Regions from separate parts of the Homo sapiens genome. Here region 1 is linked to region 2. Evidence: fine-mapped QTL for protein levels in blood plasma. A gene starts in region 2. The other region holds a variant in brackets. All regions are shown on one strand. Distances are from middle to middle. Region 1 overlaps LOC105377989 (a long non-coding RNA gene). Region 2 holds the start of RSPO3 (R-spondin 3).

The links. PIP is the posterior inclusion probability: the model's chance that the variant is causal. The UK Biobank Pharma Proteomics Project read protein levels with antibody pairs (Olink). The fine-mapping took linkage between variants from a reference panel, not from the people measured, so its PIPs are less certain.
Region 1: its variant is fine-mapped to the plasma level of the RSPO3 protein (UK Biobank, PIP 0.99).

What each region holds. Positions count from the first base shown.
Region 1 is chr6:127,016,481-127,019,394 of GRCh38, reverse strand. All of the region lies in intron 5 of LOC105377989 (a long non-coding RNA gene), which reads left to right. Among named protein-coding and RNA genes, the nearest start is that of RSPO3, 100 kb to the left of the region's middle. The variant A/G (reference allele first, on the strand shown) is at 1,783.
Region 2 is chr6:127,116,916-127,119,820 of GRCh38, reverse strand. RSPO3 (R-spondin 3) reads right to left here and starts at 1,150. Exons shown (of 5, transcript NM_032784.5): 1 at 532-1,150. The coding sequence starts at 628. It overlaps LOC105377989 (a long non-coding RNA gene), which reads left to right. Exons shown (of 14, transcript XR_002956387.2): 4 at 1-920.

The sequences.
Region 1 (2,914 bases), 100 kb after region 2:
TTCAGCAGTCTGAAAGCCACTGCTTTCTGTCTCTTGGAAGCCAGCTGCCATGTAAGAACTGCAAGTACCCTGAAACCGCAATGCTATGAGAAGTCCAAGGCACGGGGAAAGGTGTTGGGGAGAGAGAGAGAGAGAGAGGTGGGGGAGAATGCACACAAAGAGTACCTATGTGCAATACATGTGAGTGAAGAAACCTTTTAAGAAGTTGCTCCCCAGCTGCCCTAGGAATCCAAGTTGATGTCAAAGATTAAAGATGAATCACCACGTTGAGCCCTTCTTGGACACCTTAGCTCCAAATCATAAGTCAAATAAAATGGTAGTTTTATGCTATTAAGTGGGTTTAGAGATTCATTTATTAATGCAGGAGTAAATTCCTGGCACATATATCATCTATTAATATTTGATGTATGAATGGTCAGAGAAAAAATACCCCAGATGTTAGTGAAGAAAACAAATGATCAGAGAGATAGGATTAAACTAGAAAACACATTGCCACTGAAGTCCAAGATATTATTGAAGGGGATGGTGGGAACAATATATTCAACAGAGAGAATAGTGATCCAACGAAAATGATTAATTTTGTTGAGGTCCATACTGATCTCATATAGGGCAATTTTTATGAGTGAAGAGTAAAACAAAAATGGAGCCAGAATAAGATTTGTTTTTGGCAAATTAATAATATATGATATTTTAAAATATTATGGTACTTTAGACTATTAACAACTATAAGCAAGTTCTTTTTTAAAGAAAAATAACTTACTGCTTATTTTACTAGCATAAGTTTATTTTGTAAAGGATATGATTTATAAATAAAATGTATATATCAATTTATTTGAGAAGTGATAAAATATGTGTATAAATTTATCTTATAAATTTAAATTTATAGAACTTACAAACCACACAAAAGCAATGAAGCTGTTTTAATGAAAATAAAAATTTGAAATATGACTTTACAAGTAATGGTTACTATCTAATGTCAAGTCTCAGCAGCCCATTGATTTGAATAATTTGTTTTGCATGCACAACATTGAGGTGCTCCGTGGTGCTCCCTTCATTCATCCACTGTTTCAAGAGTGAATATGCATACACCTAAAAAGAACAGTATAAAGTTATAAACTTCCTAGTGAATACCACATTTGTAAGAGTTTCAAAATATACATAGAGATGGCATAAGAAGCTTTATTCCAATATCCACTTAAAAAAAGTTAACCTAGGAGTCGAGATGAGCATCACAGTCTCTCCAGTGTGTTAAAATATACTGTATATTGTATCGTGTGTTTTTCTAGTTTTTAAAATAGTCTAAATATGTTTAGAAATTATGTTTCTATTAAACATTTGTGTGACTCTGGAAGCTTCTCTGTAGAACACTTGGAAAACTACTGGTTTAGATTAAACAAAAGGAAATCTTCAAGGAACTTTGTTTTCAGCACACTATTTTAGATACAAAGCAATTTCATCCATCTGAGTATACAAATTATATTCTCCATGCTCTAATCTGTTTTTATTTTATCTTTAATTGCAATTTTACCGGATTTCAAATAAAAGTGTTTTTTAAATTTTTTTAAATGAAACTTCTCATGAAAAGTAGGTAATTTATTTCTGGATTATCTGCTTTTTAGAACTTTTTGCCTTTTTGTATAAAGATCTTGATGACAGGCTGTATGGCTCACTAAATTCTGCCCAATACCATGCAAGGACAATGGGATAGTCTTTCAGTTTGCTTATATTATTAGCTATTATGTCAGTATTAAAGATATCAGAAAGCATTTTAGCCTCATAGAT[A/G]AGGCAGACAGCAACTAAATAAGTACTGTCACACCTGTTAGTCTCAATCAAGACTTTGGGTATCGTTAGCAAAGAAGCATGTTGGGGTGTGAGTAGAGGCTCAGCCGTGTCTACTTCAAGGTTGGAATTGCCCTAACCCTGCAAATAGCTTGTAATATGGACACCTCTGTTTTGGATACAAGAGGAAGAGAACTATTCTGATGTTACAGTTTATGAAATGTAACACCATTGTCTGGTTCTGTTATTAAGTGCAGTTGTTCACACCTAACCACATATTTATCATCTTGCATTGTTATCTCAAGATATTTATTCTCTAATGAATCTCTAATAGCTTTATGCAGGAGGTCTTGTCTCCCCTATTTAGCTGTAAGCTCTTTGAAGACAATGGGCAATGTCTCATAATTTTACTCACCACTGTGCAAAGTAGTTTGGGTCACACACTAGACATGCAATAAAGGTTGATTAACTAATTAATATAATACTTATGAACTTCCCATCTCATGTCAGTGGCTATGCTAGGTACTATATGCACAATAGTGAGTATGGTTCTGTTCCCTTAAAGAATTGCAAAAGCAAAAAGGCATGTATACACACACACACACACACACACACACACACACACACACTCATATATTGCTATATGATTTTCAGGATTATAATCACATTAGAACTCAGTTGAATCTCAAACTTGTTGTATTATCAATATTATCATAGATAAACCAGAGTTTTGCCATTCATTTACCAGAGACTTTTATTCTTAAGAAGGTTTTTATTTATTTTTATTATAATTTTAAAGTCTAGGCATAATAACTTAACAAGGAATAATAATTTAGAAATTAATAACCTAGTGTGAAAATTCTTTGTATTTCAGTTCTTCATTATATTTTCTGAATGATAAATCCTGTTAGAAGTTTTGTGTTTTCTAAGAAAAACATTTAGAAAATGGTTCATGTTGAGGATTTCTCTTCATTGTGTGTTATAAATGTAAAGAAACTTAAAGTAAATCTTACTGCCACTGAAGGATCCTCTTCCAAGCTGAAACTTACCTTAAAATCTGCGTGGTCTTGAATCTCTTGAACTCTGAGCCTGCCCTGAGTCCTTTATATCCTTCTTAACCAAAGCTCTGGCCCAG
Region 2 (2,905 bases):
CGCTCGCTCCCTGGCTTCCTGGCCGGGTAGCGGGCGTTCGGCTACCGGAGTCCAGCCTAAGGGCCCAGCCGAGGTCTCCCCGCGCGAGGCGGTTGCGCTAGGTGAGCGGGTACCGCGGCCGCGCCTCCCTTGTCATTTACTCAGCGGTCAGAGGCATCCTGCGTCTGGGAGTCCCAAGTGCCTTCGGCTGGGTGCCCCTGTCCGATCCTCAAAAGGAAAGCACAAATCCCGGGTGCGAGTCTAACCCAGGACCGAACTTTCCCGCGAACCTGAAGTTACCATGGGGCGGGAGCCACCTTAGCGCCGCGTCCGCCCGCCCCTCGCACCGGCTAGGATGCTGCGGAAGGCAGGGGCGCCGAGAGGCAAGGGTGAAAGACGCCGTCCATACCCCCAAAGCCCGAACCTGCATCTCCTCTGCGAGGCGCAGGGCGGGAGGACCGCTGCAGTTGGGAGCCGGCTCCGGACAGGCAAAGCGACCCGACAGGTGAACGCGGCGGGAGGGAGCAAACGCGTAAAAAACCCTGCACTTACTTCTTCGCTGGCGCCTTCCCCGGGAGGCGTTTTGGCTGCCGATGTATTCCATAAAGTTCAAAATGATAAAAAGCCAAGAAATCAGTCGCAAGTGCATAGTAACCCAGTAATGCTTCCCTTCCTTTCTCCTCTTTCTTTTGATTGTTAATTATATTTAATGTTTTTAAAATATATGTAGGTGTTAGGCGTATATAGACAGTGCCCGAGCAGCGGGACTTCTCCTCTCACATCCGATAGGCGTGCTGTGATGGCAAGCGAAGTGGGGCGGGTGGACAGGGAAACCAACTATTGTACTTTCAAATTATCCAAGCACTGAACTGCGGCGGCTTCGCTGGGGTGGCTGGCATCGCCGCGAACCGGGGTTCCAGGAGCCGCCGGGGCGGCCGCAGGTAGCATGTTGTGCGGCAACTGCCGCAGGCGGGATCCGGGCGGGCGAGCGGCGGCGGCGGCGGCTGCAGCGGCGGCCCCTTGGGCTCAGAAGCTGCGGCGGCTGCGGCTGCAGCGGCGGGGGCCCCTGGAGCGCAGGGGAGCGGGCGCCGTCGGCACAGCGGCCATGGCCAAGGGGCGGCGGAGAGACCCCGAGCTGCTTCTGGCGTGCGCGAGCAGGAGACGCTCCAGTGTTGGGCTGGGCTCCCGGGAGCACCACATAGGGGAGGAGGAGGAGGAGGGCAGGGAGGGGGGAGGGAGAGGAGGGCAGGGAGGGGGAGAGGAGGGGGGATGGCTGTGGGGGGCGGGGGGGAGCTCGGGGGCGGGGAAGGAAACTGCTGGAGCAACAACCCTGAGCGACCTCAATAACTTTCAATTTCAAGAGGGAAAGAGGGAGCTGGAAAAGTACAGGCGTTGCGCTTTGGCAGAGGGACGGGAAGAGGCGCCTAAGGGGTCCCGGGTCTACAGCGCAGCATCTCTGGACACTGCAGTGACGGCCGGAGAATTCCAGCCAGAAGAATGGGGAAAGCAGTGCGTGCGAAGAGCCCCTCCAGAAGGGCAGCTCTGGCGGGGAGACTTGGGCGCACTGGGGCTGGCAGGCAGTGTTGAGGCCGAAGACCCCCCACCCATCCCAGTTCGGCTCCTCTCCGCGGCCTCAAGCTAGGCGCACCCGGCTGTCGGTGGCCGTGCGCCCCTGCGCCCTTGTGCCCCAGCGCCCCCACCCCATCCCCAGCGCCGGCGCGCAACTACCCTCTCCCCCTTGGCAGATCGCTGGAGAGTTTCTGGCTGCTGACTTGTTCCCGGCTTTCCTGACCTTCTCCTCTGTTGCCTTTCTCCCTTTTTCTTTTTCTCTCTCTTTCTTTCTTTCTTTCTTTCTTTCTTTCTTTCTTTCTTTCTTTCTTTCTTTCTTTCTTTCTTTCTTTCTTTCTCTTTCTTTCTTTTCTTTCTTTCTTCCTTCCTCTTTCTTTGTCTTTCTTTCTTTCTTTCCTTCCTTCCTTCCTTCCTTCCTTCCTTCCTTCCTTCCTTCTTCTTTCTTTCTTTCTTTCCTTTCTTTCTTTCTTTTCGGCTGCAGTTGGTCGCCAGGCGGGTGGTGGGGAGGAAACTCTGTGGGTGCTGCCGGTCAGCTACTCTGAGGTTTACCTGCTCCGAGCGGGGAGGACCCAGAAGTGTGTGCGCTCAGGACCTTCCCGTTGGAAATGCAGCTGTGCTACGGCTTTCTTCCAAACCAAGGCTTTTCTGTGGCTTTGGAAGATTCCTTTCCCGCTCAGGCAATTCCCTCTATAGTCAGCTCGCCCCCCTTGGAGTTTTCTCTCCCACCCTCGGTCTCCCAGTGTTCTTGAGAGGATCTGTTGTACATTCTAATCTCGCATCTGGAAGACTGGGAATAAGATTTGGAAAGATTTTCCCAGTCTTGGGGAAGGAAGGGGAAGGTCCACTACTTTCTTATCTTCCCAGCCCAAGTGGAGGCCCAAGGCAGCAGAGAGTAAGATGCTCTGGCCCACCCAGGGATGGGAGAACAGAGGGCCGGCACCCCTGAGTGGGGCACACCCTGGCTGTCGTTAGTAAATGGTGAGCTTTCCACGTCTTTTCTCCGGTAGCACCAGCCGATGAACTTTTCAGTAATTACTGAAGAAGTATTTAGTCGAAAGTCACAAGCCTCAAGTGATTTTAACATAAGCCTGCCCTATGTATTATATTTAACAGAATATCTGAAGGACTACACTAGCACTACAGGTTAACACAGCAGCAAACTTCTGGGAGGTCACTTTGAAAGAGTCCCTGATTCATAGGTGCTTTGCTAATTTTTGTGCTCAAATAATTCAGTGTAAGTCAATTGCTAAAGCCTTGCAGAGTAGCAAGTGACACTTGCACTTCTATCTCCTTCCTCCATTTGTAATCCCTATTACTGGATTGCCTTCAATTTATGTAAATTAGGTAAATTTACATG